3 linked regions of the Homo sapiens genome follow. The protein of the gene in region 3 purifies or fractionates together with the protein of the main gene of each other region. This does not show direct contact. Each region holds a gene or a part of one and is shown on either strand. Other genes may lie near its edges. The genes, in order: LNPEP, ECPAS and TMEM267.

What was found.
Region 1: the proteins of TMEM267 (region 3) and LNPEP purify together in Homo sapiens (affinity purification with mass spectrometry; 2 studies listed by BioGRID and IntAct, with this or other methods). This does not show direct contact.
Region 2: the proteins of TMEM267 (region 3) and ECPAS purify together in Homo sapiens (affinity purification with mass spectrometry; 2 studies listed by BioGRID and IntAct, with this or other methods). This does not show direct contact.

What each region holds. Positions count from the first base shown.
Region 1 is NC_000005.10:97,029,512-97,037,489, forward strand, and holds part of LNPEP (leucyl-cystinyl aminopeptidase), read left to right. Parts: 3' UTR 1-7,978. UniProt on the Homo sapiens protein: Release of an N-terminal amino acid, cleaves before cysteine, leucine as well as other amino acids. Degrades peptide hormones such as oxytocin, vasopressin and angiotensin III, and plays a role in maintaining homeostasis during pregnancy.
Region 2 is NC_000009.12:111,480,618-111,488,986, forward strand, and holds the start of ECPAS (proteasome adapter and scaffold protein ECM29), read right to left. Parts: upstream 3,767-8,369; 5' UTR 3,521-3,766; coding exon of another isoform or gene 3,499-3,520; intron 3,441-3,498; exon of another isoform or gene 3,368-3,440; intron 2,946-3,367; exon of another isoform or gene 2,927-2,945; coding exon of another isoform or gene 2,887-2,926; intron 2,785-2,886; exon of another isoform or gene 2,692-2,784; intron 1-2,691. UniProt on the Homo sapiens protein: Adapter/scaffolding protein that binds to the 26S proteasome, motor proteins and other compartment specific proteins. May couple the proteasome to different compartments including endosome, endoplasmic reticulum and centrosome.
Region 3 is NC_000005.10:43,452,167-43,460,144, forward strand, and holds part of TMEM267 (transmembrane protein 267), read right to left. Parts: intron 2,440-7,978; exon of another isoform or gene 2,289-2,439; intron 1,878-2,288; 5' UTR 1,804-1,877; coding exon 1,492-1,803; intron 1-1,491.

The sequences.
Region 1 (7,978 bases), about 54 Mb from region 3:
CATGTGTGAATTTTCATTTTATATGATAGTGTAGCATATTAGAAGCATATTTTAAAACAGAGCCTTTGAGAAATTGAAAAACAATTATTTGAAGTTCACCATAGTACCTTAAAGGAACAAAGAGAATGTGGGATAGGAGTAACTTGAATTCGTGTTTAGTATGGTGGGCTTTGAATTTTTTTCACTATCAAAAATAGTGCTTTTGTTTAGTTAAAAATTGTAGTTTTTCTTTTTTTGTGTGTCCAAACTAACATAAAAGGAGTGGTCAAAGAAGGAAAGAAGAAAAATGAGGGAGGATGTCCGAAACTGTATGGCATTTTACTCCTTCTGAAAGAGAAATACTGTACTTGAATTTTTGAGCTATGCAGACTTATACCTAGATTGTTGTGTTTCTTTGATTCTTAGGAGAAAAGCTTTCTTCCTAATAATTCTTGAGAACTTTATATTTTGTTTGAAAACAGTTTCTATGTACATAAAAAGGGTATTTACCCATTTGTGAGCACTTAAAACACTCCACAGAGTCAGACAGTGGGAAAGGTCACCCTTTTTTTATTCGGCAGGTATCAAGTTAGAATGTATGGAATTGTGAATAAAATTATATTTTATTTTATGAAAATATTTTTATATAATAAAATTTAAAAGGCTGGTAAGCTAAAAAAATAGTCTTCTTTAATCCTAGTGTGTTTTCCCCAATTTAGTCTTTTCTAAAATTTATCTGTTTTAGAGTAGAAAATATTATATCCTGAGAATCACAGAATCATCTAAATATGTCTTATTCAACTGAAGTGATTGTAAGTCTTTATTCTTGTGCTTTGGTTAAATGAATGATAATTTAGTTGATAGTGAAAGTTAATGTGTTTTTATATTTTTAGAGTGAGGGAAAAATACTAAACTTTTGAGAGTTTTGTTGTCGTTGCTGGTTTTTTACCATGTGGTACTAAATTCCACTTTGATACAAAATTTAAATTTTGTAACTTCTCAAAATCACTTAAGATTCTTCAGTTTTACCTGTGCTTCTTGACATCGCTCCTATAATGTATGTTAGTTAACTCTGCATATGGCAAATCTTGTCTTGAATTATATCATTTCTCTCCCTCTCTCTCTCTCTCTGTGTGTGTGTGTGTGTGTGTGTGTGTGTGTGTGTGTGTGTGTGTGTGTAGTGTGGGGGGTATTGTTATGAGTAAAACTTTATCAAAACTTGGCCTGAAAAAGAGATAACTCATGATCCATTGCTATCTTTATTACTCAAAGGCTGTTCATTCCCATAATACCAGATCCATAATAGTTGTAGTTTTTTTGATGTTGTTGCCCTTACCTTAATTATTTGTAGTTTTAGTAGGCCTTGCCTCAGTTTTTCCCACAGAATTCCATAATTTTAATGTTGAACTAACCCATCTATATAGGACTTCTAAAAACTACGTCAGGAATGTAAGGTTAAATGAGAGGTAGAACTTGTAGTGTAATAGGTATAATGGTAGCTTTCAAAGTTTTATCTTCTCAAAACATTGTCTTAGCCAGTGTATTTCTGAGAACTCAGACTGAAGCACAGAAGTCACAGTATGCTTCTTTTATTTAAGCACACAGATTCATGACACAAGTACTTGTTGAACAAGTGTTCTCATTGCAGAGAGATCTACTTGAATATAAAAGGGTCATCATACTAGATTATTAAAAAAGAATTGGAAATCTTGAGTTGTGGAAGAAATGTTTATGCTTTGGAGATCTAAAAAAGTTATGAATGTAGGAATTAGATAAGTCCAGTTTGTTCTGTTAATATAAAATGGTTAGATATATTAAACTGCAAGTAGTATCAGCTTCACCATAAGCTTGGGCCTTCCTCCATCTTGTTTTATTTAAGTCTCTTTAAATGAAATTTTGTTGTCATTGTTTCAGCATTCATGAACTTTCTTACTATCACAGGTTCTACTTTAATTTTCCTTGCCATATGTGTTTCCATTTTGTGGGACATTAGCCACCACAGGAACACAAGAGTTGTCAGAAGACTCCTGGGTGTACAGAGCAAATCAAGCTGCATCAGTATTATAGGATACCAAACAGAATCCTTTCTATTAGGAAATAAGAAATCAGTTAAGTGTTGGCTGGGCGCGGTGGCTTATGCCTGTAATCCCAGCATTTTGGGATGCCAAGGTGGGCAGACCATTTGAGGCCAGGAGTTCTAAACCAGTTTGGCCGACATGGCAAAACCCCATCTCTACTAAAAATATAAAAATTAGCTGGGCATGGTGGTGCACACCTGTAATCCCAGCTACCTGGGAGGCACGAGAATCACTTGAACCCAGGAGGCGGAGGTTGCAGTGAGCCAAGGTTGTGCCACTGCACTCCAGCCTGGGTGACAAAGCGAGACTGTCTCAAAAAACAAAAAACAAAAAAAAAAGAGTTAAGTGTTGATTTTGTTGGATTACTGACAGTTTGTTGAGATGGATTTTAAAAAGAGTCTATTTAAACCAAAGTACCTGGAACCATAATCTGCCATCAGATTGCTAAACATTCACATAATCCCCATGTTTCATGGGGCTTCAGGGAAGGCAAATACATCTGAGATGAGCCACCTCCAAGGACAGCATTTCCTGGGCTGCAAAACTAGATGTGGATTTTGTTACTTAGGCCTCTCTAAAAACTGAGGCCATGGATATGACATAGCTTTTCTTCTCACCTATGCCTTTGTTACTTTTGTATTTATTGGAATTAAATCTCTTTTTAAAGAGCTTCCTTCCCCCTTCATCCCATTTGTATTTTTAAAAACTAAGTTATATATATATTTGCTTGTTTTTGCATTCTTTTATTTTGTGCTCCATTCCCTGCTTTGCCAGTTAAGTACTACCTGAAAAGTAGCGGTTCAAAAGTATGGTAAATCTCCTCCCTTAACCTTATTGCCTGTGTGGGTGACAGCTAATGGAAAAGTTGATCGATTTTTTTCAGTGGTTTTTTTGGGAGTATATACTTTAAAAATGTACATACATGTTTTTGATAGTTTTTATATTATTTCATTTTGTATATTTTTTTCCTGATGAAGAGTGATATATCATCCTATGAAAATTTCATCTACCCTTCCCATTTTACCTGTATGGGCAGTAGCTACAGACTAGTTATTTGGTTTCCTTCTTTGGAAGAAGGTGGTGATGTTGAGAGGAGAGCAAGCTATATTCTTTTAAAAGTGTGTACAGATGTTTTTGCTATTTTGTGTTATTTCATTTTGTATTTCATTCATCCATTTTGTGGACGTGTAGATAAAACGCGGTGGTCCAAAAGCATGACAGATGTCCCCTTTGCGTTTCTCCTTATTGTTCGCATGGACAATAACTGACAGAGTAGTCCTAGTTGCTGTTGTTTTGATCTAGTCTTGGGGCTGGGGTTGTATATTATTCTTTCAAGTGTGTATAAATATTGTGCCACCTTTTTATACTTCATTTTATACTTGTTTCCTTGTATGGATGCATATATACTTAATGAAAATTGAGGTTCAGAGTATGACAAATCTCTTTTCCCTTTTCCTTACTGCCTATTTAGGCAATAGCTAATAGAGTAGTTTGTTTTGTTTTGGGGTGTGGGGGAGAGTGGAGTATGTACTTAATGTATATAAATAAACTTGCTACTACATTGTATTACTAATTTGGTTCACACTGTGTCCTTCTCATGGATGTGAAAGTACCAATGAAATGTGGAGATCTCGATGTATAACAGTCTCCCATTCTCCTCATCCCTTATTGACTGCTGGGCAGTAGCTAACAGAGTAGTTGTCAAGTGGCGTATTTGAGGTGAGGGGGAGGGACGGGGAAGGTAGGAAAATGCACTTAATGTATATACATGTTTTTACTACTACATTGTATTAATTCATCGGGTGCCCAGACTGAAAGGTACCTAATGAACCATGGAGTTCCGGATGTATAACAGTCTCCTCTTTTCCCTTTCCCTTATTGCCCATGTGGGCAATACTTAAGAGTAGTTTGGGTTTATTGAAGATTTTTTGCTAGGAGAGAGAAAATTTTTTGCTAGGAGAGGTTTCAAGGTAAGAGTATATACTTTAAACATGTATATAAATGTTTTTGCTACTTTTCTGTCACTACCTTTCTTACCTTGTCCTTTACATGGATATATGAAGAAAATTGAGGTTCAGCCTGTAGCAGCTCTCCTCTTCTGCCCTTCCCTTAGATTGTCTGTGTGGGCAGGTGTCTAAGAGAGTAGTTGATTAGCTTCAGGGATTCTTTGGTGGGTGTTGGGGTATATACTTTTGTATATGTATGTACATATTTTTATTTCTTTATTATAGTGTTTCATTGGGTACCCGGTCCTTCACTTGGATGTGTAGGTTCCTAATGAGCCATGGAGTTATGGATGTATAACAATCTGTTCTCCCTTTACCCTTTTAATGTATATGGGCAATAATTTTAAAGTAGTTTGGATTTTTTTAAGTTTTGAGGGGTGGGAGGGGTCTAAGGCAGAATATATCCTTTTTAAAAATGTATATATACTTTTCATTAACTATATTGTATTATTTCATGCTGTACCCAGTCCATTGCTTGGACTTACGGGTACCTAATGAAACGTGGAGGTCCGGATGTATGAAAATCTCCTCTTTTCCCCTTTCCTTATTGCCTCTGTAGGCAATAATTATAGAGTAGTATAGATGGTTTTTCTTTTTTATCCATCTGCCTATCTCCAGGAGGATGGGGTGTGCACTTTTAGAAATGTATATAAATGTTCTTGCTCCTTTTTCCTGTTACTTCATTGTGTGCCAAGGCCTTTCCATGGATACTTAGGTACGTAATGAAAATTGAGGTTCATTCTATGAAAAAATCTCCCCTTCTCCCCTTCCCTTATTGCCTGTCTTGGCAATGGCCAGTAGAGTAGTTATTTAAGGGATTTTGTTTTTTTGTTTTTTTGTTTTTTTTTTGGTAGGGGAGGTGGGGAATTTCTGGGTTTGTCTTTTTTTTAATGTATATAAAAGTTTGCTAGTTGTTGTTATTGTTGTTCTTTCACTCTCAACACAGTTTTTTGTTTGGAGTTGTAGGAATCAAATGTAATGAGGGACCCAGACCCGAGAGTGTGGTAAATATTCTTTGCCTTCCTCAGAGCCTGTATACACAAGCAAGTAGTATGTGAGCACTACAGGGCTTGGGTTTTGGTTTTTTGCTTTTGAGGGTTTTAATGAGGAGTGGGATTGTTGAGAGGAAAAGGCAAGATATATAATTTTTTTAATGTATATAAATGTTTTGCTCCTTTTTGATGTTAACTTCATTTTGAATCTGGTCCTTTGTATGACCACTTAGGTACTTAATAGTAATAAAGTTGAGATTGACTCTATGAAAAATATCCCATACTCCCCATCCCTCATTGCCTAGGGGGCAATGGTAGAATAGATGTTTGGTTTCTTTTGGGGGTGTCTGAGTGTATATGTGTGTGTATATACACACAAGAACACACATATTTATATACTATACACACACATTTTAATGTATATAAATATTTGCTACATTCTGTGTGTTATATAATGTGGTACCCAGTCCTCTGCTGGGACATGGATGTACATAATGAAACATGGAGGTCCAGACGTATGATAACTCTCCTGTTTCCCTTCCCTCATTGCCTACAGGGGCAATAGTTTCATATCTTGGGTTTTTTATTGTTTAATTTTTTTTTATGGGGAGGGGTTCTTTGGGTGGGTAATAGTCAGGGGGAAAGGACAGTGTCTATACTTTTTAAAGATGTATATAAATGTTTCATGTTATTGGTTTTGTACCTAGTCCTTTGCATGGATATATAGGTACCTAATGAAAATCGAGGATCAGTGTATGACAAATCTCCCATCCTCCCCTTTCCTTATTGCCTGTGTCGGCAATAGGAAGTAGAATAGTTGTGTGTTGTTTACTTACTTGTCTGTTTTAGAGAGATTTCTATTTTTGGTAGGGGAATATTCTTAATATGTTTTCATATCTTTATTTCATTTTGTAGTCTTTTGCATGGCTATGTAGGGACCTAATGAAAGTCGAGTTTCATAATATGACAGCTCACTTCTTTTCCTACATATTTCCTCACTTAGCAGTAGCTAGTGTAGTTATTTTGTGGTTATTTTATTTCATTCTCTAGGATCTATTCCATTAAGGATGCAAGTGTGTAGATGCATATATATCATTTGCTTCTTTCTTCCGCCATTATTTTCCTTTAACACTTAGTCCCTTGCAAGGGGTCTGACTATACCTAACAAAAATAAAGACCTACTAAATCCCTGCCATCTGGCTGGAAGGTGTAGCAGTGTATTAATGTAACTAATAGCAACAGGTGTGCAGCAGATAAGACAGGAGAAGACACTCAGCTATGGTTGAGTTGTGAAAGCTAATTAGATCCAGCATTTCTTATGTTGATTCAGATTGAATGAGGTAGTGAAAAGGGACCTGTGCTTTTGTAAATTCTAGAAAGGCAAGAGGACAATATTGAATAAAGCTGTGTTTAAACTTCATTGCTCATATATCTTTTAGTAACTGGTAAACCGGCGAAGCTGATAAGCCAATAAGAGTGCTGTCTAGAACGCATTTGCAAACCGTTAAGAGTAGCTTCTTTTTGAGGCCTGGACTTCTGATTCATCTATAGAAGTCTATTATGATTCCATCAATTGCATAGCTTGTGTACCTGGTAGAAATTGTGTCTTGGAATGACCCTTTCGAGTTATTGACATGGCTCTGATGAATAGAACATGAGCCCCAAAACTAAATCCAAAAGGAATTTTCTATCTTTCATCCCCCACATGTGGCAAGACAAGTTGGCCCTTTCTTACCCAGAGGTCTTTTGTGTGACTGCATCTTTCTCCTCCGTTCTCCATTGTGTGCTTTCCATTTTGTCTTTAGTGCCTATACTGTTAGGTGTTTTCTTCACTGGCATTCACAAATTTAAGCCATTGCTGCCTCATTAGCCTTGTATTTTGTGTGCATATCATGTATCCAGACCTGTATGTTCGCTTTAAGCATTCTTATATCACACTGTCTCCTCATCTACCATATGGTAAATGTTAAAACTCCACATTTGTCTGCATCAGGGAAAATGCATGGGCACACATCCTCCCTCCCTCCCTCTCTGCTCTCCTCCCTTCCTTCAGGCCTCTTAGCATTGTTTGTTTTCCCATTTCTGATACTACTACTCCATGCTGAAGATTTGCCATATTACTATTTTGGAAACATTGAGTGATAGAACTCCTAGAAAATTTGCAAAGAAATGTTACATACTGTATATCAAACTCTCAGATTCTAGTGTTGAAAAAGTAGCCTATACTTTGCTATTACTTATACCTGCTGCCATAGAAAAAAATAAGTTTATTCATGACACATTTACATTTGATCATAAATAAAAGAAAAAAGGGCACCTTTTTGGAGTTAGTCATGGTAGTCATTAGTGATATTTCTGAACAGTTCTTAATTTAAAATACTTCAAAGGAAGTAAAGGTCATGGCTTAGCTGAAGGAAATGCTCCAGAAATTGGACTGTGTAAACCATCAGTACAATAATACGCTGTGTATGTATGTGTATATAAAATGAGAATTATGGCATAATTGGAGCATTTGCATTAATCAACAAACTCACATTGAGACAAAACTTAGTTTTACAGCTGTCTTGATTAAAGCCAAGTGTTCCATGTTGCTGTGAAGAATAGCCTCTTTCAAATACTTTGGAAAGTAGTTACTTGGAAACTTGTAAAGGTATTACATTTTTATATTTAAACACCTATAGAGATCTTCAATTCCTTGAGTCTGAGCTTGTGGGTGGAATTCTAAATTTGTATCATAATCTGTCTTTTGTGAAACATTTTGAAAATATGTATATATAATATTGTATATGCAAATTGTGTTGTTTCACTTGTAAAGGGAAAAGGCTTATTTTTCTTTATATTTCTGATAACTTGTTTTGCATATGACCAGCACTGACTGAAAGGCATGTGTAGCTGCAAACACTGTTGCTTTTTTTGTGAAATG
Region 2 (8,369 bases), on a different chromosome or scaffold from region 3:
TCTGCTATTTTATTATACCCATTCTAAAACTAAAAGTGGTTTATATGAAACTTCTTAACCAGTGTACATGTATATGCTTTCAAGTTAAATTATTCTAAGGTATCAACTGCAACGTATTCAGTCTCTCCTGAAGAAATACAGAAACCAAGTCCACCGATATCTGTGGCTGATGACTGACAATTTAACTGAACAAAACAAGAAGAAGGCAAGGATTGGAATTATTTGTTCCTAACTTTCCATTAGGTACTAGAGCCAGGAAATCCCTTAACTATCAGCATCTTAACCAGTACCTGAATGTATGGAAGCACACTGCATAGACACAAATACTTCAGCCACTTCAGAATATCCAATTCTTCCTCTAGTTTTGTTCCCATTCCTGCTATCAATTCAGACTTTAATGTGTTTGGTTCTACAACAGGAACTCAGATGTCATACAGCATAGCAATTGAAAAAAAATCAGACCACCTCACACCCAACAGGATGGTTACTACTGACAATATAGATAAGTGTCGGCCAGGATATAGAGAAATTAGAACTCTGTGTATTGTTGGTGGTAATGTAAAATGGTACAACCACTGTCAAAAACAGTACAGTGGGGGCCGGGCGCGGTGGCTCACGCCTGTAATCCCAGCACTTTGGGAGGCCGAGGCGGGTGGATCACAGCAGATCACAAGGTCAGGAGATCAAGACCATCTTGGCTAACACAGTGAAACCCCGTCTCTACTAAAAATACAAAAAATTAGCCGGGCGTGGTGGCGGGCGCCTGCAGTCCCAGCTACTCGGAGGGCTGAGGCATAAGAATGGCGTGAACCTGGGAGGCGGAGCTTACAGTGAGCGGAGATCGCGCCACTGCACTCCAGTCTGGGCGACAGAGCAAGACTTGGTCTCAAGAAAAAAAAAAGAAAAAAGAAAACAGTACAGTGGTTCCTTAAAAATTTAAAACTAGAACTATCACATGATCCAGCAATTACATTTCTGGGTATGTACCCAAAAGAACTGAAAGCAAGGTCTCAAAGGGGTATCTGTACACCCATGTTCACAACAGCATTATTCCCAATAGCTAAAATGTGGAAGCAACCCAAGTGTCCATAGACAGATAGATGGACAAGGAAATGTGATATATACATACAAGGGAATATCATTCAACCTTTAAAAGGAAAAGAAATTCTGACACACGCAACAACATGGATGAACCTTGAGGACATTATGCTAAATAAAGATAAAACCAGTCACAAATTCTGTATGATTCCATTCACACGAGGTAGGAAGAATACTCAAAATCACAGGGACAGAAAGTACAATGATGGTCGCCAGGGGCCGAAGGGAGGAGGGAATGAGGATTTGTTGTTTAATGGGTATCAAGTTTCCGTTTTACAAGACGAAGAGTTCTGGAAATGGATGGTGGTGATGATTACACAACAGTGTGAATGTACTCAATCCCACTGAACTGTACACTTAAAAAATGGCTAGGACGGGAAATTTTATGGTATGTGTACTTTTCTTCCAATTAAAACAAAACATGGAACTGATCTCAGAAGGCCTGGTGGTGCTTCCACGTGGAACCGACAGAAGAGCAATCTGTAGCCCGCTTCTCTCTCTAATCGCACCATGAGACCTTGTCTCCTCCGACTCTCCAATCTGCTCAGGATCACACCAAGTGTTTACTTCAGCTTCAAAAAAAGCAAACAGTACTCCTGCTCCACCAGTTCTGTGTCAAAGCAGCAAGGAACTTAATCTCTCCAAACCTGCCTCCTCTTTAAAACAAGGATAATTCCTACCTATCTGCCTCACAAGGTTGCTATGAGGGCAAAAGTGAGATCATGTATATAAAAGTGGCTTTAAACTGACAAGCACCAGAAAAACATACATTACGTGTATAACTACTTTCATATGGAAATTCAGAAGCGGCTTTAACAACGTAAGCTTCATAAAGCTTGCAACACCTCACCCATGCTTTATTCCATTTAAAACCCACATCATCTTCAAATAACACCTTTCTTGTTTTTGCCATAAACTGAAGGGCAGCATTGGGAGAAAAAAAAAAAGGGAAAGAAAGAAAACCCTTGGGGGGGAGAACACTCAAAACGCAATCAGAAATTATCTCACATGTCCTATGTCCTATGAAACTTCGGTATTTATGACCCCAGCGTGGGTCCGCGGCGCCCCGGAACTACACTTCCCACAAAGCATTGAGGCGAACCCCGGCGGCGGGCGGGGCGGCCTGGGATTCAGGGTGACCACCGCTCTCCCCAGACAGGGACCGCCGTCCCCGGGAAGGCTGCACCGCGTACGATCGAGGGGGCACTAACTCTCCTTTCTGAAAGCGCTGTCACCCCGTGGTTTCTCCTGCGGTTCGACCGGCGACCCTCTCCGCCCTCCCTGCTCCATCTGAGGGTCACCGCCTATTCGTGACCTTTCGGCTGATTACTAGAGTGTCACAAAAAGGCACCTTCTCCCCCTTCCCGAAAGCTCCATTTCTATAACTCAACCAGCCGTCGGGGACCCGGGGCCAGGCGGGGTCAGACGGGACGGGCGGACACTGCCCGTCACCCCGGGGCTCCGGCCCTCCCGCCAGCCGAGGCTCAGTGGGCAGGGGGCTGGGCTCCCCCGACCCCGGGCCAGGGCGGATCGCGGGCAGAGGTGGCTCCGCCCGGGGCTCCGGTTTCAATTTCGCAACGTGACGGTGCAAACCTGAGGCCTACAAACGCCAGCGGCGACGGTCCGCGCCCCGCCCGTCCGCCAGGCCCGGGCTCCCCAGCTCCCCGTACGCCGCGGCCGCCGCCCGCCCACCGGGCCTGGCGCCCCAGCCCTCATGCGGCCGCCGGCCCCCGGCACCGCGCGGCGCCCGTTCCGGCTCGCGGCCGCAGGTTCGGCCGCGGCACTTACTCAGCTCATCCTGGGAGGCGGAGGCGGCGGCCGCAGCCATGTTGCGCCGGGGAGGGAACGAGGGAGGGGCTGGGGGGGCAGGGCGCGGCCGGGGGGCTCGCGGCTCGCGGTGCGGCAGGGGCCGCGAGCCGCCTCCGTTCACTCGGCGCGGACCGCGCTGTGCCCCGAGGCCCGCCCGCCGCCGCCGCCTGCGTCCTCCGCGTCGCGAGCGTCGCCCTTCGCTGCCCCCGCGAGCTCGCGACTCGGGCGCTCCCGCAGCCTCGCGCCTCTGCGGAGCCGCTGCCGCTGCCGCCGCCGCCGTCTGTGCGGCCGAATCCCCGTGCGCCAGGCCCGCGCGGCGGCTCTGCGACTCCGCGCCGCGCTCGCCCAACTCACGCCGGTTTTATATTTAGAAAGAGCTGAGCCATCCTCCCAGCGGCCCCCCCGCCGGGCCCCTCGCGCGCCCGCCCGCCCTCGCTCGCTCGCGGCTCGTCCTGCCCACCTGTCGCCGCCCGCCCCGCGTGCGCTCCCCGCGCGGACTCGACACGCGGCGGCCTGTGCGGGCGGCCCGGCCTAACCGCGCCGCCGCGCGCGCAGGGCCAGTCCCCCGCGGCCCGGGGGCGGGCCTCTGACCTGAGTCGGAGCCGGTCTCCATGCCGCGGACGCTGCGCTCGGCGCCGCGAGGTGAGGGCTGTAGAGCGAGGCGTTCGGCGGGCCGGGCCCCGGGGAGCCGCGCGCCGCAGTCCGTGAGGGGCTGGGCCGAGCGGGCCCGGGCTGCCCTAGCGGCCGGGGGAAATCCTCGAGGCGGGGCCGGAGCGCCCTTTTCCGAGGTCTGCGGCTGTCACGTTGGCTGGGCCCGACCTGGGGAAACACGCCTGTCCAAAGGAAGAGACGTGGACTCAGAAAAGTAGAGCCGGGCTCGGAGTCGGCGGGAGGAAGCCCCGCCCTGCGCCTCCCGCCGAACTTCTCGGCCCCGGCGCTGACTCAGTCCCGGACGAGCCCCTGCGCCGCAGCGGCCCCCGACAGCCCAGTTCTGGTGTGGAGGTGGCTGGTGCTCCCAAAACGGCTAGCGGGAGCAGGGGGTCCACTCAGCCCTGCAAAAGTTAGATAAGGCAAGATTCCTAAAGTTCACATGGAAGTATCTATGCCTATGTGAGCTCTGAGATTTTGTTCAGATACCCTATGTTCTTTTCGGTAACTAGAGTGATTTATTTTCGATATGCTGATTTTAACTTTCTGCCTTCGCTTTGTCCGTGAGGTCATGTACACTTGCAAAATGAAATTCAAATTCAGGGGTTGCATAATTGCTGTACTTTAAGTGATGGTACTGTCATAACAAATTAGATACAAGATCAGATACTTTTTTTATATAAGAAGAAATCAAGTCTTAAATAGATTGAAATTGCATTTATTCCTTAAAGCAGAAATCTATAAAGCCCTAAGTAATGTCTTAAAAATGGAATATATGTCATTCCTGTTGTAACATAGGCCAAGTACAAGGTACAACACTGAAGACATTTTTATTTCCTTTATTGTTTTTGTTATAGAAATTATACATGATCTTGGGCCGGGCGCGGTGGCTCACGCCTGTAATCCCAGCTCTTTCGGAGGCTTAGGCGGGTGGATCACGAGGTCAGGAGTTCGAGACCAGCCTGGCCAACATGGTGAAACCCTGTCTCTAATTAAAAAATACAAAAATTAGCTGGGCGTGGAGGCGCGCGCCTGTAATCCCAACTACTCGGGAGGCTGAGGTAGGAGAATCGCTTGAACCCGGGAGGCGGAGCTTGCAGTGAGCCGAGATCGCACCACTGCACTCCAGCCTGGGGGACAGAGCGAGACTCCGTCTCAAAAAGAAAAAAAAAAGAAAAATTATACATAATTTTTGTAAAAAAAAAATGCAAATGATTTGGAGTATCATAAAATTAAAAGTGAAAGTCCTTCCTCCTAGCCCCACCATCCCACTCTGCAGAGAAATTATGACTAACAGTTACAGTTAAGTGTGCAGAAGACCTTTTCTCTGGACATATATATACAGCCCCATGTATGGCTTTGATGGGGACAGGTTTCTACAATAAAGTTCTGGATCAATTATTCCTTCACACACATTGTTCCATGTTAATTCAAAACACTGCACTACCATCACCCTTTTTTGTTTGTAACTTCATACTACACTAAGTTAACCAACCCCTTTTTTCATGTATGCTCCTCTTTTATTTGATGTTGCCTCCAAAATAAATACACAATGAACTACTTACAAACAATAGAGAGGTGTATACAGGTCTTCTCCCAACTGCATACCCACCATCCCCCCTCATCCCACTCATGCCCATAAATAATCCCTATTAACAGTTTGGTGCATTCAACCTTTCCTTACTGTTTCCGTGACTATAGAAAGTAGCTGCACCAAAGACTGGTTTGGGGAAATTTGACTTCCCATAATTTCAAATGGATCCTTCCAAAGCCACCCCAGATAAATACAGAATCTGAGTAAAAAACAATGGGTTTGTTATTTTATTTTATTTTTATTCATTTATTTATTTATTTTATTTTATTTTTTGAAACGGAGTTTCGCTCTTGTTGCCCAGGCTGGAGTGCAATGGCGCGATCTCGGCTCACCGCAACCTCCGCCTCCTGGGTTCAAGCGATTCCCCTGCCTCAGCCTCCCGAGTAGCTGGGATTATAGGCATGCGTCACCACGTCCGGCTAATTTTGTGTTTTCAGTAAAGACGGGGTTTCTCCATGTTGGCCAGGCTGGTCTCCAACTCCTGACCTCAGGTGATCCACCCACCTCGGCCTCCCAAAGTGCTGGGATTACAGGTGTGAGCCACCATGCCTGGCCGTTAGGCAATTTTAACCTCCAGGCAAGACTAGTTAACAAATCCTTAGTTCCTCCTATGAAGAAATTCCAGGTTCTCTGCGTGTACAAATCACATGAATGTGTGTACACAGATTTTTGTTAGTTTTGACAAAAATGGAACTCTACTTCCCATATTATGTAACGTTATCTTTTCACCAAATAATGTATTACAGGTGTCCTTTCATATCAGTAATGATAATAATGGCTAATGGAATAATAATTATGCCAGACACCATTCTAGTGTTTTACTTGGATGAATTCATCTAACCCCCACAACAATCTTATGAAATAGGGATTTTTATGGCACTGGATGGTTGAGGAACACATCTAATGTGCCACAAACTGGAAAGTAAGTGGTGGAGCTGGGATTTGAACCTGGGCAGTGTGGATTCAGAGTCAGCTTGCTTAATCACTAGGATCAGTATGTACAGAACTACCTCTTTTTTTTTTTTTTTTTTTTGAGAGGGAGTCTCGCTCTGTCCCCCAGGCTGGAGTGCAGTGGCACGATCTCAGTTCACTGCAACCTCCGCCTCCCGGGTTCAAGCGATTCTCCTGCCTCACCCTCCTGAGTAGCTGGGATTACAGGCATGTACCACCACGCCCAGCTAATTTTTGTATTTTTAGTAGAGATGGAGTTTCACCATGTTGGCCAGGCTGGTCTCAAACTCCTGACCTCAAATGATCCACCTGCCTTGGCCTCCCAAAGTGTTGGGATTACAGGCGTGAGCCACTGTGCCTGGCCTCATTTTTTTTTTAAATGGCTGCATGATAAGTACCAACAAAATGTATTTAACCATTTCCCTATTGATGAGCTGTTAGGTTGTTTACAGTTTTTTACTAAACAATACTACTGTAAAACATTCTTATACATATCTTTATGTAATCACATATTTCTAGATGTAGATGTGGAATTGTTAGGCAAAAAAAGATCTTAAAGTCTCATTACATACAGTAGTTTATAGCAACTTACAGTGCTACTTCTGATCACTACTGTGTAAAGCTCTAAGCTTTTTTATACTTGCTTCTTCCATCAAACTACTTGTAGTTCATTTTTCCCACTAAATAGCTTCATGTTCATATGAAACACTTAGGTTTTGAATAACAGCAGCCTTGAGATAGTTCCTGTCTAGAATTCACTTCAGCTGTCAAAAACAGAGGCAAGAAGGAATTGGGGTGAGGAGGAAAACAGGAGCCAGAGAAGAGGCTACTGAGAAACCAAAATAGGATATCATAGAATCCAAGAACTAAAAACCTGTCCCCTCTCCTCTCATGTAGGCTGTCTTCACATCAAACACATATACAGTTCTAACAAGATTTTTAAAAATCTTGTTTCCAGCGTTAAAGCAAAATATTTGAAAGCATTCTTCTTCTGGGCAGATACATGGATGACAAGTGCTAACAGACACCTAAAAACAAAGAAGCATACAAATTATTAAGCTAGGCTGGGCCAGGCACAATGGCTCACATCTGTAATCCCAGGACTTTGGAAGGCTGTGAGGCAGGAGGATCCTTGGAGGCCAGGAATTCAAGACCAGCCTGGGCAATCTAGCAAGACATGGTCCCTACAAAAAATCAAAAAGTTAACCAGGTGTGGTGGTGCACGCCTGTGGTCCCAGTACTGGAGAGGCTGAGATGGGAGGATTGCATGAGCCTGGGAAGCAGAGGTTGCCATGAGCAGAGATGGCACCACTGTACTCCAACCTGGGCAACAGAGTGAGACCCTGTCTCAAAAAAGAAAGGAAGGAAGGAAGGAGAAAAGAGAAGAGAAGAGAAGAGAAGAAAAGAAAAAAAAGAAGAAACAGCAGCTAGGCTCACACCTGTAATCCCAGCTACTCAGGAGGGTGAGGTGGAAGGATAACTTGAAGCCAGGAGTTCGAGACCAGCCAGGGCAGCATAGCAAGACCCCATCTGTACAATAAAATCATAAATAAATGAACATATAAGAACTCAAAATGTAAATTCTGGGTCGGGTGCGGTGGCTCACGCCTGTAATCCTAGCACTTTGGGAGGCCAAAGCAGGTGGACCATCTAAGGTCAAGAGTTCGGGACCAGCCTGGCCAACATGGAGAAACCCCGTCTCTACTAAAAATACAAAAAATTAGCTGGGCATGGTGGCACGCACCTGTAATCCCAGCTACTCAAGAGGCTGAGGCAGGAGAATTGCTTGAACCCGGAAGGTGGAGGTTGCAGTGAGCCGAGATTGCGCCATTGCACTACAGTCTGGGCGACAAGAGTGAAACTCAGTCTAAATAATTAAATAAATTTAAAAAATTAAATTCTGGGGGTATTTATAAAGTACGAAATGCACTGAGTCATTTCTCTTGAATAGATGGTATTCATGGTGCTAATCCTAACCTTATAAAACAGTAAAATTACGGCCAGGCACGATGGCTCACACCTGTAATACCAGTATTTTAAGAGGCTGAAGCAGGAGAATGGCTTGAGGCCAGGAGTTCAAGACCAGCCTAGGGAAATATAGCCCCTGTCTCTACAAAAAAGGAAAAAAAATGTAGTAAAATTATGTCAAGTATATTAGCATCAAAAAACCAAGTACGGAGCATATTTTAGTAAGCTTTTCATCTAAAACGATTGTAATAAGAAATTTTGGGTGCCTAAAAGGATTAATTCTAAACTATCTAGAAAATTA
Region 3 (7,978 bases):
ACAATAGCAAAGTCATGGAATTAACTTAAGTGTCCTTCAGTGGATGACTGGATAAAATGTGATTGATATATAATCACACCATGGAACACTACTTGCCCATACAAAATAATAAAATCGTGTCTTGTACAGCAACATGGATGGAACTGGAGGCCATTATCCTTAGTGAAATGATGCAGAAACAGAAAGTAAAAAAGACACACATGTTCTCACTTGTAAGCGAGAGCTAAACAATGGGTACACATGGACATACAGAGTGGAATAACAGACACTGGAGACTCCAAGAGGTGGGAGAGTGAGAAGAGGTGAGAGATAAAATACTATTTGTACAGCATTAGAGTGACAGGTACACTAAAAGCTCAGACTTTACCGCTATGCAATACATACACGTTATACAACTGTGCTTGTGGCCCTAAATCCATAAAAAAAAAAAAAAAAACTGAAGAAAAGAAAAGTACTCTACTAACACCAAACAACCAGGATTCAAACTCAAGTCTTCTCATTTCAATCTTAAACAAAATGTTATGCTAACTCTACTTATAGCACAAAAGTTTGTCTTTAATTAGCAATTACTGATTCTTTACTGATTAAGTTTCTAAATAAGTGAATCAATTTCTGAGAAATACCTGGTACTTGACGCATAATAGGAAAAAGTGAATATTTCTCATTCATTCCACAAATATTTCCTGAATATCTACTAGGTAAGCCAGGCATTGTTCTAGGCCAGGGGTGAATGAAACAGAAAGTCCTTGCTCTATGAGTTTAGATTTCTTTCCTGAAATGTTTATAGATCATAAGCACGTAAAATATAGGCAAATCTTCTGACATTTAGAAAATATTATCTGAACCAACATTTTAAGTTTAGTTCATTTGTGAACTATATAACTGAACTCCTGAATGCCTCAGTGAAATTCCTCAATTTCTTCACAAGGGACTGTGTTCTAGCCAGTCCAGTTGAAATACATGCCTTTCGCTCCAAAAGGGACTGGGAGAATTAATCTGTTCAAGTCATTCCTTAGGACTGGGAATCATCTTAAAGCTATTCAACTTTTATGGAGTACTTAGGAGCTGCATACTAACTGTAAAACATAAAGAATAAGGGGGAAATGTTAAGTGTGCTCCTGAAGAAAGTACACTGATACAGAAAGAACTAGGACAGCCTTGAGAATCACCCCTGTTAATTTAAACCGGTTTGCTAATACTTTCTTCAAGACCTGGCTAAACGCATCCTCTGTAAGCCAGCACTGAACTCTTTAGGTACAGTTCGTGGGTCTTTGCTCTATGTGAATCCATAGCAGTTTGTGATGGCAAATAATTTGATTAGCAACATGTCTGTGTGCATCTTTAGGCAAGTACTAAGTGGTCAAAAAGGTTACATGAATGTGCTTTCCTATTTTAAGACAAATCCTCTCTAGTTCTAAATGATGCTGTAAAGATCAGCAAAATAGTGCTAAGGAAATTAAAGATCAGAAAAATTAAGCCTATGCTTTTTACCTTTAAAGACATGGATCCAGCTAGAAAAAAGTGGTCTACATCAATAACAGAGGCTAAAAATCCAGCTAAAATGATTTCTCCAAAGTCAGTCTTCTTCTTGATTCCAGTGACTACCGCCCATGACCACATGCCAATTACACAATGTACTGCATTATCTGAGAGAGCACGAAGCCAGTCATTTTGCTGAATTGTGGAAAACTGAAGAAGTCTGTCAGCTACGAGGCAAAATGCCCCCAGACCAAGGCTGGAAATAAGAGATTCAGTGCTACAAGTCTGCAGTAAAGCATGGGTCTTTTCAGTCTCGGATGCCATGACAAACAATATGTTAGTATAGACTAAAAGCCATCAGGAATGAACAGTCTATTCTTGTTTACATTTCCAGCACCCTAAAGGAGAAAGTAGAGAAAAATATGAATGAAGATTATGGACTACCATATAATATTTAAACAAAACAGTATCAGCAATAATTTCACAAACATAAAACCAAGATGTAAATACTGGCAACTTTTACATGTTATATATAATATGTCACATAGCCCAAGGAGAATAGATTTTTTTTTTTTTTTTTTTTTTAGGAAGAGCAGGGTACATGGTATGTATCAAGGAGAATTTCAGAAAGCCCACCAACTGCAATCTATTGCTTTAAGGTCATCAAATAGATCTATCTCCCAGCTGTGTGTAGTACATGGTGGTGAATATCCGTTGGGTTTGTGTACCCAACAACTACTTTCCATACTTCTGACAACAGTAATCCCTTCCTTTGGGAAAACTTTCTCACATTAAACTCCAGAGCTCACCAATTAGAGTTTTCCATTTCCCTAATAATGGTGACTAATCTAGTAATGAAAGTGGTCCAGGCTGAGCCAATCAGATTCCTTTCCAAAATTTGTCTTGTGGTAGAGAAAGTTCCTCTTCTTGGAGGCCATGGGCTCCACTACACGAAATAGCCTAGGAAAATAAAATCCCAGAGAGACACAAAGGAGAAAGGCTAATAGAATCATGATGACAGTGAGTACTTATGTCCAACGTCTAAAGGTTCTCAGAGCTACCCTAGATCTTGCAGCTCCCCCTCCACTTCAATGAGCTACCCCAACATTTTCCCATCAAATCCCCTTTACATTTCTGATGCCTTGAACCAAATAACCTTAATTGATATAAAAATGCAATCATAATTCTATGCTGAGTTCTCACATGGCACAGAATATTGACATTATTTACCTAGCTAGAAAATATTTGTCTACCTAAAGTGTGACACATGAAGTTTTTTCTTTTACATTGTTTTGTTTTAATCCTGAGACTAAAGAATAACTGATTTATTGATAATGACTCAACTTCTATTACACAATAAAAGCTATACATAGCTCATTATATATATTCTAAAACTGCAGAGGACCTAGAAGAATAAAACAATTTTGAAAAACAGAAACTAAGTTGGAGGACTACTTATGCCATCTTATTTTAAGTTTCATTATAAAGCTACAGTAGGCTGGGCACAGTGGCTTACACCTGTAATCCCAACACTTTAGGAGGCTGAGGCAGGAGGATTGCTTGAGGACAGGAGCTCGAGACCAACCTGGGCAACATAGTGAGACACTGTCTCTACAAATAATAAAAAATTAGCTAGGCGTGGTGGTGCATGCCTGTAGTCCCAGCTACTTGAGAGGCTGAGGTGGGAGGATCGCTTAAGCCCCGGAGGTTGAGGCTGCAGTGGGCTGTAATCGTGCTACTGCATGCCAGCCTGGGCAACACAGAGACCCTGTCTTAAAAAAAAAAAAGCTACAGTAATCAAAACAGTGTAGTATTGGTATAATGACAGACATACAGACTAACAAAACAGAATACAGAGTGGGATCAGAAATAGAACCAAACATACCTAGTCAATTTTATTTATTTATGTATTTATTTTTTGAGATGGAGTCTCACTCTGTCACCCAGGCTGGAGTGCAGTGGTGTGATCTTGGCTCGCTGCAACCTCTGCCTCCTGGGTTCAAGCAATTCTCCTGCCTCAGCCTCTCAAGTAGCTGGGATTACAGGTGCCCGCCACCATGCCTGGCTAATTTTTTTGTTTGTATTTTTAGTAGAGATGGGTTTCACCATGTTGGCCAGGCTGGTTTCGAACTTCTGACCTCAAGTGATCCACCCACCTCAGCCTCCCAAAGAGCTGGGATAATAGGCGTGAGCCATCGTGCCCAGCCAATTTTTTTTTATTTAAGACAGAGTTTTACTGGAGTGTAGTGGCACAGTTATGGCTCACTACACCCTTTACCTCCCACGTTTAAGAAGTTCTCCTACCTCAGTCTCTTGAGTAGCTGGAGCCACAGATGTGTGTCACCATGCCTTTTTTTTTTTTCAAAGAGACAAGGTCTCCCTGTCTCTAGAGAGGCCTCGAACTCCTAGCTGGTCTCGAACTCCTGGCCTCAAGTGATCCTTGGCTTCCCAAAGTGCTGAGATTACAGGCATGAGCCATCATGCCCAGCCTGGTCAATTAATTTTTGATAAAGGTGCAAAGATAAATCAATGGAGGAAGAATATTCTTTTCAACAAATGGTGTGAGAACAAATGGATATCCATATGCAAAAATCATAAACCTGAATCTATATCTTACTCCATATACAAAAATTATCTCAAAATGAATCACAAACCTAAATGTAAATAAAACATAAAAAGATAAAATTTCTGGAAAAAAACATAAAGTATTTTTGTGTCCTTGGGTCACGCAAAGAGTTATTAGATAAAATACCAAAAGCTTGATCCATTAAAAAATTGGTAAGTTGAACTTATCAAAATTAAAAGCTTCTGATCTTTGAAAGACAATGTTAAGAGAAAGAAAAAACAATTTTTAAATCTTATATCTGATAAAGGACTTACATCCAGAATATATAAAGAACTCTCAAAACAGAGTAATAGGAAAACAAACCAATACAAAAATGGACAAAAGATGTGAAAATGGGTACCTACCATTGATGATATTCAGATAGCCAATAAGTATAAGAAATATGTTCATCACCATTAATTATTAGGGAAATGCAAATTTTAAAAATTAGATATCACACACCTGTTAAATGGCTAAAATTAAAGACTGACAATCCCAGATGTTGACAAAGATGTGGAGCAACCAGAACTCATACGCTGCTGGTCGGAATAAAAAACAGTATGACTATTTTGGAAAAACAGTTTTCCAATTTCTCAGAAAGTTAAACGTACTCTTACCATATAACCCAGTCATTCCACTTCTAGGTATTTTCCCAAAAGCTTATGTGTACACAAAGGCTTACACATGAATGTTCATAGCAGCTTTATCTGAATTTGTTCCAAGTTGGAAACAACTCAAATGTCCACAAACATGTGAATAAACAAAAGGTGGAATAAAAAGGAACAAACATGTGATACACATAAAAACATGAATGAATCTTGAAATGATTATAGTAAGTGAAAGAAGTCAAACAAACAAAAATTACACAGTTAAAACCCATAGAACTGTGCGACATAAAGGATGAACCCTAATATAAAGTATGGACTTTAGTCAAAAATAACATATCAATATTGGTTCCCTACTTGTATCAAATATACCACACTATTGCAAATATTAATAATGGGGAAAATGTATGCAGGGCAAAGGGCATCTATAAGAATTCTCTATAATATTGGCTCAATTTTTCTGTAAACCTAAAACTACTATTTAGGTTTATGTATTAGTCTGTTATTGCATGGAACTACCTGAAACTGGGTAATTTACAATGAAAAGAAGCTTAATTGGCTTACAGTTCTGCAGGCTGTACAGGAAGCATGGCTGAGGAAACCTCAGGAAACTTACAATCATGGTGGAAGGTAAAGAGGAAGGAGTCACGTTTTACATGGCCAGAGTAGAAGACTAAAGTGGAAGGTGCTACACACTTTAAACAGCCAGATCTCGTGAGAACGAACTCACTATCATGAGAACACCTAGGGGGATATCTGCCCCCATGAACCAGTCACCTCCCACCAGGCTCCTCCTCCAACACTGGGGATTACAATTTGACATGAGATTTGGGTGAGGACACAAATCCAAACCATATCAGTTTATAAAGTCTATTAATTAGAAAAACTTACAAAAACTTAAAAATAAAGTCAATTTATTTTAAAAAATTAAATAAATGAACCGCCAACAAATATTATAAATTTAAGTAATAGATGTACTGTAGTTCATTATATTTTTCTCTATTTTTCTGTATGTTTGAAATTTTCATTTAGAAATGTTTTTATTAAATTTATTTATTTTGAGGACAGGGTCTCACTGTGTTGCCCACACTGGAGTGCAGTGGCTTGATCTTGGCTCACTGCAACCTTGACTTCCTAGTCTCAGGTGATCCTCCCACCTCACCTCCTGAGTAGCTGGGACTACAGGCATGAGCCATCATGCCTGGCTATATGTTTCCATTTCTATTTATTTAATTTAAAAAATTCTTTCTTTCCTTAATTTTTGAGACAGGGTCTTGCTCTGTTGTCCAGGCTGGAGTGCAGTGGTGTGAATATGGCTCACTGCAGCCTCTATGTCCTGGGCTCATGAGATCCCCCTGCCTCAGCCTCCTGAGTAGCTGGAATCACAGTCACAGGCCACCATGCCTGGCTAATTTTTAAATTTTTTTGTAGAGATGGAATTTCACCATGTTGCCCAGGCTGGTCTGCAGCTCCTGGCCTCAAGCAATCTTCCCACCTCAGCCTCCCAAAGTGCTGGGATTACAGGCGTGAGCCACTGAACCTGGCCTAGAAATATGTTTTTAAAAAGAGTGCATAGTATAATTCTACTTATTTAAAAGTCTACAAAATACAAACTAATTTATAGTGACAGAAAGCAGATCCATGGTTTCCTGAAGACAGTAGAGGCAGGAATGATTAAAAAGGAGAATAAAGAAACTTTGGTAAGGGACGCATATGTTCATTATCTTGACTGTGGTGATAGTTCCATGGTTCACAGTTTCATACATATGTCAAAACGTATCAAACTGTATATTTTAAACATATACAGTTAATTACATGTCAATTATACTCCAACAAAGATGTTAAAAAGTTAGGAAGGTACACTTCATTGATTATAAAACAGCAGGCTTTTGTAAAAAAGGAGAAATATGAAAACAAGAAACTATGGAAATGAAAAAGTTGATTACCCAAATAAAAACTCAATGCAAAGTCTACTATGCACTGAAGGAATGCACAGTGGCGTGAATCTTTCAAACATCAAAATTAGTAAATGAGAACATTTGCAAATAATTTTTCCAAAGCTTAAGGGGAAAATATAAGACAAAGAGTTGGGCATTGAAAAAAAATTTCCAAAAATAAAGAGAAAACCTTTAGAGTTTCTATGTCAAAAAAAAAAAATTATCTTCCAAAGAAAGAGAATGTGATTATCATCAACCCTAAATGTCAGAATACTGTGAGGTAACATTTACAGAACTCTGAGAGAAAAAGATCATAGACTGTAGCATTCTAAGCATAGTTAAATTATGGCACCTATGTGGCAACTGTGAATTTTAAAAGTTTTGCCTTAGAAATTATACACCCATGTATGATTTTGGGGGGTAGGGGAAACTGAGCAGTAGAACTTCTCAATCTCTAGCAGGAAGGGAGACAAATAAAGAAAATTTGATCAATACAGCAAGACAGAAAAGAAAAAAAAGAAAACCTTACTTCCCTCCAGCTCACCCCCACTCTGCAAAAAGCAATAGGGACCAAATAAAATACAAATACCACAACAAATGTGAATGTGTTAAATTTCTCTATAAAGAGACAAACATAATCAGATTGGGGCAAAAGAAAACATCACTAAATTATTGTTCAAAACAAAACACCTCAAACAAAAAGTCTTCACAATATAGAAAATAAAGAGATGAGAAAATATATGTCTAAGAAATACAAACAAAATTAAGTAGCAATGGTAATATTAACTGCAAACACAGAATTCAAGGTAAAAATGATTAATTAGAACTGAAAAGGATAAAATATTCACATCACAGTAAAGTTCTATGGGGTAAGAGGATGCTTACATGTCAAACAACAGCAGCAAAAAATTAAGTGGTCAATAAAAGGCATAATCTGAATAATATAATTTATAAATTTTATTTCATACTCAGGTATACAACTTCATATGCTATGAAGCAGTGGTCCCAGTCCTTTTTGGCACCAGGGACTGGTTTTGTGGAAGACAATTTTTCCATGGACTGTGGAGGGGGATGGTTTTGCGATGATTCAAGTGCATTACATTTATTGTGTACTTTATTTCTATTATTATTACATTGTAATATATAATTAAATAATTACACAACTCAACATAATGTAGAATCAGTGGGAGCCCTTAGCTTGTTTTCCTGCATCTAGAGAGTTCCATCTTAGGATGGTGGGAGACAGTGACAGATCATCAGGCATTAGATTCTCATAAGAAGCACGTGACCTAGAACTCGCATGTGCAGTTCACAATAGGTTCACTCTCCAATGAGAAGCTAACGCTGCCACT